Regions from separate parts of the Homo sapiens genome. Here region 1 is linked to region 2. Evidence: fine-mapped expression QTL. A gene starts in region 2. The other region holds a variant in brackets. All regions are shown on one strand. Distances are from middle to middle.

Region 1 (5,372 bases), 160 kb after region 2:
AACAAAAATAAGTAACAGCATTCATGGAAAACTGTCTCAGTGTTTTAATCCACATATTTGGTAAAGCTTTAAAATGAAAAAGAAGAAAGTTAATTTGCACATTACAAATTCAAAAGATGATAGAGAATTAACACTGAATAAAACAATAAATAGGAAATCTATATGATTAATAAATAAAACACCTTACCTTTTATGTAGGTTTGTCAAGATCATTCTTCTCCAGAAACTTAAAAAGAATAGTGGTTGCGTCCTTGCTGTTAGAAAATGGTGTTTCTTTCATTGTCTGTGGATTTAAACATAGGCTTAACGGTGCCCACCTTCCTCGTGCTGCACTGACCATCCCACTCCTGGGTCTTGTGTTGGCTGCTGAGTAGCAGCCATGTGTAGAGTTGGTGGTGATTCTTGAAGTTTGAATTTCTGCCTCTCTTCCTGCCAGGGTACCCAAAATTTTACTCAGAACTAGCTCAACTTTTCTCATAGTTTCTTCTATAGCATGGCAGCAGCTGCTGTTATTTCCTACTATTCTGGAATACTAATATGCCTTGGCAGTATAGTGAAACAAAAATTAATCTAAAAAATAAGCATGTTAAAAGACTAGATGAGGCCGGGTGCGGTGGCTCACGCCTGTAATCCCAGCACTTTGGGAGGCCGAGGTGGGCAGATCATGAGGTCAAGAGATCGAGAGACCATCCTGGCCAACATGGTGAAACCCCGTCTGTACTAAGAATACAAAAATTAGCTGGGCATTGTGGCACCCTGTAATCCCAGCTACTCTGGAGGCCGAGACAGGAGAATCCCTTGAACCCAGGAGGCGGAGGTTGCAGTGAGCTGAGATTGCACCACTGCACTCCAGCCTGGCAACAGCAAGACTCCATCTCAAAAAAAAAAAGACTAGATGAAACTAAACCATATTCTCATGTGTCAGCTGGAATCTAGAGGACTCTGGCCCTTTGGGGCTATTCTTGAACCACATTCTAGAGGTTATTAGAACTACAGTTCAAGGATAGCCAGAGAAGGGCTGGAATGACCTGGAAAGGTTCAGTGCAAATTGTTACATGCATATGACTTTCCAAGCACATAATAGATGGCTGTAAACAGAAAGGAAAGAAGGATTAGTTATTTTATTCATAGCTTAGAATTTAGCTGTAGTAACATGTTAAGCTGCACGGAGGGGAAGAAGGATCACTACTATGTTGGATCTCAAAAAACTCCGAAAGGTGGAAATGGTTCTGGACAAAGCAAGGAATGGTATCAAGGATGAATTCTCTTAACCCAGAGTACATTTCTTTTTAGAGAGAGTGACCCATTTGTCTAACTTTGCAAAACAGACGAATTACTTGAACCTTTGCCATTGATGTGCACATCCAGTGAGGGACAATTCATCTTCTTAGAAAAACTGACACACATTGCTTCATCCTCATTTTTTAGAGGCTCCATAGACAACTACAAATGTGCAAAAGTTGGGAGTACATCTTTTTCACAAAGAAATCTTCAATTCTGCCCTGTAGGGTTTTTTCCACAACCATCTCCTGTGATCTTTCAAATTGGTTCATTAAAGATCTGGGTGTTCTGAAGTAATTCTTTGGTGTGGTCTGTACCATTTGTGGTCAGTCTTATTTGTGGTTTATATTTGGCCAGAGCATCCACGACCTCAAAAGCCTTTTCCAGATCTCTGTGTAGGTTTTGGCAACTTCTTTGTACTCTGAATAAAAAAATACTGCCCTGATGCCACATCCCATGAAAGTTGCAAATTCTTCTTTAACTGTAAGAGCTGTTTCTTACCATGTTCTACCCAGTCTTCCTCCTGGTTTCAAACTGTTCGTAATATTTTGGTCTAACCTTTGTTTGGAGGCTTTAGGGTTTCTTGTTGTTGTCTTTTTGTTTCATTTTATTTTGTTTTCCTGGTTTGAAATGCAGATTATTTCTCTAGCTTTTTACATTGACTTTTTATTCATAGGAGAAATATATGTGTGCACATCTACCCACACAGATACTGTTTTAGTTTCACTGGGACATTTGCCCAAAGGCAGAAGACAGATTGCTGTTGCAGAGTTGTAGATTATTATTATATTTAGCAAGATAGCCAGCTAAATCCTAACTTACTCCACTGGGTGACTCCCTGGGATGTTATTTTCTCTATCTCTGAAGTTATTTGAGCAAGGAAAGCATTTCTTTTATGCTGTCTATATTCTGTTTTATTTGGTTCATATATTTCCTTGGATTCTTTATGCATATTTTATGGCACTGACTTTCAAGAATAAAGATGTAGTTGAGAGGCATGTCAGAGTCGATGGTTTGTTGTTAATTGATAGTTTGATTGATTAATATAGTAGGATTTTTCTGCTTGATCCTGACCTAACCCATTGGCTTTCTTTAGTGGACAGTTTTACAAGGACAGTGGCAGGTGCAGGGAATTGCCCACTTCAGCAGGGCTCTGACATACTTGATCTGTTTCTCCTTCCCTCAGGAAAAGCTTTGCCAGCAGAAGTATAATGTCTCCTGCATAATGATCATGCCCCAGCACCAAAGGCAAGGATTTGGACGGTTTCTCATTGATTTCAGTAAGTGAAGTACTTTATTTACTTTCATGATCCAGGAAGCTGATGGCCGTTACAGGAAACAGTAAAATATAAAACTTTATTTAACCTGCATTGTTGTTTTTATCAATAGATAATGGGCTTTCTATTTATATTTACATAGGTTAGAACATCTTCCTCAAGTGAAAAATGTACTGCTGCTCAGTGATTGTACTCTAGGAAATTGAGACTAGATCTCTCGGCAGCAGGCCTCATGCACAAAGCCATTACCCTGAATGAACCGACAGAATTACATTCCATTTTGTGGTGCTCATGCTCATTAGCACCAAAAGAGGCAATTATTTGTGATTAAAGCTAAAGGAAGTATTATTTGAAAGGATTTTCAGCTCTCT[G/A]AAATTTTGCCTATAATCTTGTACAGTACAAAGCAGAAAAGGTATATTTCCATTTAGAAAAATAATTTTCTAGGCAGCTTATCCTGGGCCTTGCTAGTAGAAATAACTCTTACCTTATTTTGTTAATTTCCCTTTTCTATTATGGAAATTAATACAGTGTTTGTATCTAGAGGTTTCCCAAGAAATATTTATCTTATATGCACTCATATCTTCTGAACCTTCTCAGTTAAAACCGGCATAATATATAAAAGTATGCACATGGATAATGTTTTTAAAAATGGTAGTTTTTTTTTTCCTCCTTGTTTATATTATACTGGATGTGTAAATGTTGTGTTAGGGGTACATTTGGAGAATCAATTCAAAATATCTAGATAACATGATGACCAGATAACCCATGATAATAGTCATTTCTCGTCATGTAAAAATCTGTCACTGGCCGGGCGTGGTGGCTTATGCCTGTAATCCCAGCACTTTGGGAGGCCAAGGCAGGTGGGTCACAAGATCAAGAGATCGAGACCATCCTGGCCAACATGGTGAACCCCATCTCTACTAAAAAATACAAAAATTAGCTGGATGTGGTGGCACACACCTGTACTCCCAGCTACTAGGGAGGCTGAGGCAGGAGAATCACTTGAACCCGGGAGGTGGAGGTTGCAGTGAGCCGAGATGGTGCCACTGCACTCCAGCCTGGGTGACAGAGTGAGAGACTCTGTCTCAAAAAAAAAAAAAAAAAAAAAAAAAAAAAAAAAGTCTGTCGCTAGGAACCAGGTGCTTCTTGATTACCAGATTGCAGTTTATCTGATTATTAACTGAAAGGAGGAAAATTTAGGACTTTGCACAATCTTCATCAGCTACATCAGATGCAAAAACCACAATGTAAATGCGCTTACAGAAAACCATGAAGAAATATAGTGAATCTAAATCTATATTGTTAGGTATTAAAAGATTAAGGTCTGATTAAAGTGTAAAATAACTGAATAGCAGTTTTGGACTGATTTATATGATTTATTGACATTGAAGAATATGATTCTTTTAAAAGAAGAATTTTGATTATTTTTCTCTTTTTAGATAATATTTTTAGTTATTTATTAATTACCCTAGTCTTATCTATACTTTCCTGACCTAATTATCCATGAAACCAGTAATCCCAAGGAGGGCCACCTTACCAAATGCAGTGTACCATTTTTATTTTTATAGAGTCCTAGCTGTAATCATTTCTGAGGGCAAAACCATTTATCTTGTTCTCTAGTTTTGTGTGGCTACCATTCATAAGTAGTTCATAAATATAGTTTCTGGTATGCATAGCAGCCATTCAAGCCTTAAATGTTTGGTCATATCTATATGCCTACAGAATAAGGCAAACTCCTTAGCTCAATATTTAACGTCTTCCAACATCTAGTTCCAGCCTGTCCTTTAGGCTTTTTCATCTACTAATCTCCTTTTTCTCAAATAGTCTGAGCATGGTCCTATACCTCTATTTTTTTGTCTATTCAGTCCCTTCCTTGAAATGATCACCTCGTCCTTTCCTAGACTCCGTCTGTTCAAAATCCTGCCCATTGTTAAGAGCCAGCTCAAGAATCTCTGCTTTTTGATCCCACCTCCTGGAATTTTATCTCATACCTTTATTTTATCTTATACCATATTCTATATGGTATCACACTTACACTCTGTTCACCCTTTTATGATAATTATTGATGGAGGTTTCATACTTCCAACTTCTCTGTATCCACTAGGACAGTTTCCTTTATAATAATATGTATTAGATGATATAAATTAAATTTTATTGATATAAACTAAATTTCCAAATTGATATATGGTTGCTGTCCACAATCATTGTCTACCTAAAATTAAAAAGGAACTGGTACTTACTAGGTAAAAGTTCAAGCTCTAAATTCAGTAGTATCTTATTTGTACAGCATGATCTGGCACTAAGGCCTTCTACATAAGAGAACAATCTGGGTAACAAATACATTATCTTCAAATGCTATGTCTTTTTTTTAACCATTTTAGTGAAAACTGTTACTAGAAACTACCTTGTATTATTAAACTACAGAACACATTGAAACCTTTTCTCAGTGGCTCCAGGCCACCATGATGAATGCTGTCCACCAGGATGTGAGCAGGCAAAGTAGTGCTGAGGGTGTGGTTTTTTTCTTTTCTCTTTCCTGTACACCTAGCATTGCCCCTACTGGAGTGAGTTAAGAAGTGCAGTGAAAGATTTGAATAAAGTTGAAGAGACTGGTGTTATTCCCTCAGAGAAGGGGAAACTAGGGGAAGAATTTTATAGCACTCAAAGAAAATGGGAACTGGTGTAAACCCAATAGAAATTCAGTTTAAAACCAAAAGAATTTCTTGGCTATAAAAGTTTTAAGGAAGATAGAGTAGGCTGCTGAAGAAATTAATAGCACCTTCTCTTGGAAGTTACTTAAAGTAATAGTAGATA
Region 2 (5,372 bases):
AATTCGCCTTGAGCAAGCTATTGAAGATACTAAATAAACGAGGCTGAGACAGAGTCTGAGGAAACCCAACCTGCTGTTTGTTTTATCAGTAATGTAACTCAAAAGTAGCCAAGCGGATGGCTGGAGTTTTCTCTGTGTTTTGTTTCCCTGGGCTGAGCCTGTGAATGCCAAGATTTAATCTAAAGAGGTTTGTGTTTTAAAAAACTAACAACCAAGTAATAAAACACCTATAAAAACTGTTTATAATGGAACCGGTGACAGTTTGTAGTGTAGTATTACAATTCTTCTGCTCCCCCTCGACCTTTCTCTATCCTTTCATCCAACTCTGTGCCCTTTGTCTAAGTTCCTTTCTCACCTTGCTGCCAAGAAGCTCAGGAGGAGAGGGAGCTCACACCCCAAAGCAGCAGACCATCTTTAAAAAATGAAGTGTGTGTTGTGGTCTGCATTTGAAGACAGGGCTGCGTGTGCTGCTTGTTTTGTCTGAGATAAGGACGAAGATAAGTTGTCCTAACAAAGTACCTACCTAGTTGTACAGTGGTTTCTAATGGGAAGGTGAAGATGCCGCTGCAGTGTCAGTGGCATGAGGCTGCAGGAGTCAACCAGGGCAGGAAGCCTGGGGCCTCCCCTCCCTGGCACCCGGCATAGCCATGCCCAGGCCCAAGATGGCCCTGACTCCAGGGACAGACTTCAGGCAACAGGTGGTTTTCCACCCAGGCCACCATGCCTGAAACTTGGTTCTTTTGCAAAGCCATAGTTCTCCTCCCCCTCTCAAAGAAATGGCGCCTGGGAGGGAAACTTCGTGCTCAAACTCTCTAGGAGCCATTTCTCAGCCCACCTTTCCTATTTTCTGAAGTCTCCCTTGCCAGCATCCCATTCACCTCCGGAAAGAACCAGGGGCGCTCTCTTCAGAGTCCAGAGAGCTCTGGGAGGCATGTGGGCAGCGTCAGAGTGGCCTCGCCTGGGCGGCCAGAGGAGCCCCCAGTCTCCCTCAAGTGGGCCTCAGGAACTCGGGGGGCCCAGGGGAAGCCTGGAAAACCGAACTTCGCCATCAGCCTTCCTTACAGCGCTGGCTAAAAGAGAGGGGGGGAAGGGCCCCCCAGCGGTCTTCCCCGCCCCCCTCCCGCCTCAGCCCCTCTGCCATCCGCCTGCACCGCCCAAGAAAGCACCCAGAACGCGGCTGAGCTCGCCAGCTCCTCGCAGGCAGGGAGAGAGCATCCTGGGGGGCAGCTTCCCCCTCCAGCCCGCGTCTGACATCCCCACTCCCACACAAGGATGCCGCCGCCGTGCCCTGTCCGCAGTCGCTGAATGTCACTGCTCCCTCTTCCTCCCGATCAGGGTAGACACAGCTCCCGAGGCGTCCCCCACCCCAAAACTGCCGCGATCGCCCGAAGGCGCAAAGCCTGGGCGAAGGACGAAGTTTGGGGCCCACAGCGACGGGAGTGGGGACGCGTTGGCGAGGACCGCACCTCAGTCCCAGCCCTGGCGGGCACACTCCCCGCCCCAAACGGCCCAGGCGTCCCCATCCTCCCGCGGACACCAGCGTCTCCGCCCTCCCCCGAGGGCGGCGAGAGGAGCCCCCCGGGGCGGAGGCAGGTACCCCCGGGGCGGAGACTGGGGCGGGCGGGGTCCGGGCTGCGCCCCCGGCCAGGCCGGGCGGGCTGGCGGGCGGCGCGGGGGGAGCGGGGCTGGGCGGCGCTGCCTCGGGCTCTGTGCGCTGCAGCCCGGAGCCGAGGAGGAGGAGGCGGAGGAGGAGAAGGAGGCGGCGGCGGTGGGTCCCGGGCGGGGGGAGCGCGGCGCTGCGGACCCGGGCGGCTGGCAAAGGACGAGGCGGAGGCTGAGGAAGGCAGCGGGGAGACCCAGGCTGCAGCAACAAAGGGCAGCGAGCGATTGGCCGGGCTGCAGGCGAGGTTAGCCGGGGACCCGGGTGGCCGGAGGCAGCGGCGAGCGGTGCACGTGCTTGCAGACACGGGCGAGTGTGGAGCCGGGGGGTGCACGCCCGGTGGGTAGGGGCTTGCTCCCCCGAGGCATGGGATGGCGAGGAGGCTGCAGCGACATCGTTCTGCCTGCACCCGGCCTGGGGCTGGCAGGGTAGGGGTGTGTTGGGGGGGGAAGGATGCGAGCCAGGGGGCGGGCGAGTAGTCGCCCGGGACGGGACGGGACGGGAGAGAGGGTGGAGGAGGGGGCGGGATGGAACGCTCCGGGCGGCGCGCCCGTCCGCACACTCCACCGAAGGAGCTGGCGACTGAGAACCTCGAATTTTAACTTCGCGTGCCCGCCCGCGCGCGCCCGCCCGCGCCCACCCCTAAATCCTGCGGCCGCCGCCAGCGATCAGCTCTCACACAAACTTTAGCTGCGGGCTAGGGGGTTTGGGGTTGAGTGGGGGAGGGGAGAGGGAAAAGGCCTCCTGATTGGCGTCGTCTGCAGCCAATAAGGCTACGCTCCTCTGCTGCGAGTAGACCCAATCCTTTCCTAGAGGTGGAGGGGGCGGGTAGGTGGAAGTAGAGGTGGCGCGGTATCTAGGAGAGAGAAAAAGGGCTGGACCAATAGGTGCCCGGAAGAGGCGGACCCAGCGGTCTGTTGATTGGTATTGGCAGTGGACCCTCCCCCGGGGTGGTGCCGGAGGGGGGGATGATGGGTCGAGGGGTGTGTTTATGTGGAAGCGAGATGACCGGCAGGAACCTGCCCCAATGGGCTGCAGAGTGGTTAGTGAGTGGGTGACAGACAGACCCGTAGGCCAACGGGTGGCCTTAAGTGTCTTTGGTCTCCTCCAATGGAGCAGCGGCGGGGCGGGACCGCGACTCGGGTTTAATGAGACTCCATTGGGCTGTAATCAGTGTCATGTCGGATTCATGTCAACGACAACAACAGGGGGACACAAAATGGCGGCGGCTTAGCTCCTACCCCTGGCGGCGGCGGCAGCGGTGGCGGAGGCGACGGCACCTCCTCCAGGCGGCAGCCGCAGTTTCTCAGGCAGCGGCAGCGCCCCCGGCAGGCGCGGTGGCGGTGGCGCGCAGCCAGGTCTGTCACCCACCCCGCGCGTTCCCAGGGGGAGGAGACTGGGCGGGAGGGGGGAACAGACGGGGGGGGATTCAGGGGCTTGCGACGCCCCTCCCACAGGCCTCTGCGCGAGGGTCACCGCGGGGCCGCTCGGGGTCAGGCTGCCCCTGAGCGTGACGGTAGGGGGCGGGGGAAAGGGGAGGAGGGACAGGCCCCGCCCCTCGGCAGGGCTCTAGGGCAAGGGGGCGGGGCTCGAGGGCGGAGGGGGGCGGGGCGGGATCGGGTGGGGGCGGGGTTCGGGGAGTCGGAAGGCGGGGGCTGAGAGGGAATTTCTGAGTGGGAGTGAACTGGTAGGAGCGGTGGGGGGCCGGCGAGGGTGTGAGGAAGACTAGTGAGGGTTGGGTGGGAGGAGAAGCTGAAGGTGTAGAAGCAGGTGCAGAGGGAGAGTTAGGGAGGGATGCAATTTGAGAGAAGTGGAAGGCGGACCGAGGGGTGTGTGAGGGCAGGTGAGATGATACCGAAGGCGAGATTGCAGTTGTCTGGGCGCAGAGTAGGTGGGTTTGGGTGTGGTGGATGTGGAGTAGAGTTGAAGCGGTGCAGAGTGTTGGGTTTGGGGAGGCGTTGAGGGGTTTGGGGAGGCATTGAGGCGCATGTGAGGAGCAGGTACGATTGCAGTGATGGGAAAGAGGTATCTGGGTGGATCGCATGTTGGAATAAGAAGGAGGTTTGCTAGCTTTGGGGTATGAAGTATTTTTTAAAAACGTGGAAGGATGGGATGGTTGTGCTTGGGAGAGTTTCTGAAAGATGATGCTAAGACAGCAGAGCAAACTTAAATATGAAGGAAGGGGAGAGAGGCTGCTTAGAACTTGCAAAATCTGTGGCAGAAAATCTCCTGGGGACAAGGGATTGGTAGGGGTGGGACAAGGCGGCAGGTGTGAAGAAAGTGGGTGGAGCTGTACAGTAATTTTCGGTGAATGTGATTTGGTGGACTGTGCCAGGGGTGAGGATGGGGCAGAGAAAGGTGTTAGTTTGGGAGACAAGTTGTTTGATAGGCTGTATTTATTATTTTTTATAAAAATGAGAAAAGGGTCTCACTATGTTGCCCAGGCTGGTCTCGAACTCCTGGCCTCAAGTGATCTGCCCACCTCTGCCTGACTGATGGGATTACAGACGTGAGCTATGGCGACCCGTGATACGCTGGATTCATTATGTTAAACTTGATCTGGAGTCTTCAAGGGAGTGTCCGGCAGCAGGGTATCCCAGGAAGAGACATGCACCATACCTTGGGATAGGACATTTTGCATAGCTTTGAATTTGCTAGTACTTTGCTGTGGGCAGAGTGCAGGGAGTGGTAGGAGATGACCAGGCAAAGGCAGAGGAGGGGTTAGATTACAAATGGTGTCCTATGCCCCATGAAGGAGTTTAAGCCCTGTAATTGGTAGAAGGTGTTGGGACGTGTTAAAGAGAGTGTTAGACAGAAGTTGTGAAGGGGTAGTGATAAAGAATTACAGATGTGGGAAATAGGAAATGAAGACCAACGAACCAAGTATGTTTGGGGTTGGAGGTACCAAGGAAATTCAGGGTAGAGCATATGAGGGCCCCTCCTATATGGACAGAAGGTGGAAATAGCAAATGGAAATTAGTTGTGTTCGAACAGTCTTAGTTCTATGGGGCCCCAAGAAGGTTTTTTGTGTTTTTTTTTTTTTAAAGTGCATTCTTCCTGTCTTACTTGTATACCCTAGATTTTTTGGCATAGCCTTGAAATAAAACACTCCATTTTTTTCTTACTCATAAGTTCTTTTTTTTTTTTTTTTTTTTTTTGAGACGGAGTCTCAGTCTGTCGCCCAGGCTGGAGTGCAGTGGCGCCATCTCGGCTCACTGCAAGCTCCGCCTCCCGGGTTCACGCCATTGTCCTGCCTCAGCCTCCGGAGTAGCTGGGACTACAGGCGCCTGCCACCACGCCCCGCTAATTTTTTGTATATTTAGTAGAGACGGGGTTTCACCGTGTTAGCCAGGATGGTCTCGAACTCTTGACCTTGTGATCTGCCCGCCTCGGCCTCCCAAAGTGCTGGGATTACAGGCGTGAGCCACCGCGCCCGGCCATTCATAAGTTCTTTACACATTTATCAGAATGAATTTGGACAGTATTTTATGTTTTTAAGAAGGAAAGGATAATGCACATGTTTTTTCTTTTCCGAGAACTTCTACTGAGAGTTAAAGGTTGGAGTGGTGAAGTGATGGTTTAAAAAAAAAAAAAAAGAAAAGAAAAGAGAGAGACAGAGGAAGATTTTAACATTAAAAGAGGAATTTAGGGAATGGCTGATGGTCATGACACGGTCGGCAGAGGAAGTTTTGCTTACTAGCCACACTTAGGC

What was found. PIP is the estimated chance that this variant, and not a neighbour inherited with it, causes the effect.
Region 1: its variant is the best candidate, but not a certain one, in a credible set for the expression of KAT6B in whole blood (INTERVAL, PIP 0.79).

The regions. Positions count from the first base shown.
Region 1 is chr10:74,986,552-74,991,923 of GRCh38, forward strand. It overlaps KAT6B (lysine acetyltransferase 6B), which reads left to right. Exons shown (of 18, transcript NM_012330.4): 13 at 2,468-2,561. Among named protein-coding and RNA genes, the nearest start is that of SNORD172, 32 kb to the right of the region's middle. The variant G/A (reference allele first, on the strand shown) is at 2,930.
Region 2 is chr10:74,823,768-74,829,139 of GRCh38, forward strand. KAT6B (lysine acetyltransferase 6B) reads left to right here and starts at 2,833. Exons shown (of 18, transcript NM_012330.4): 1 at 2,833-3,018. RefSeq lists silencers at 959-1,008, 1,519-1,688, 1,799-1,898, 2,009-2,208, 2,899-3,298 and enhancers at 1,140-1,911, 1,912-2,683.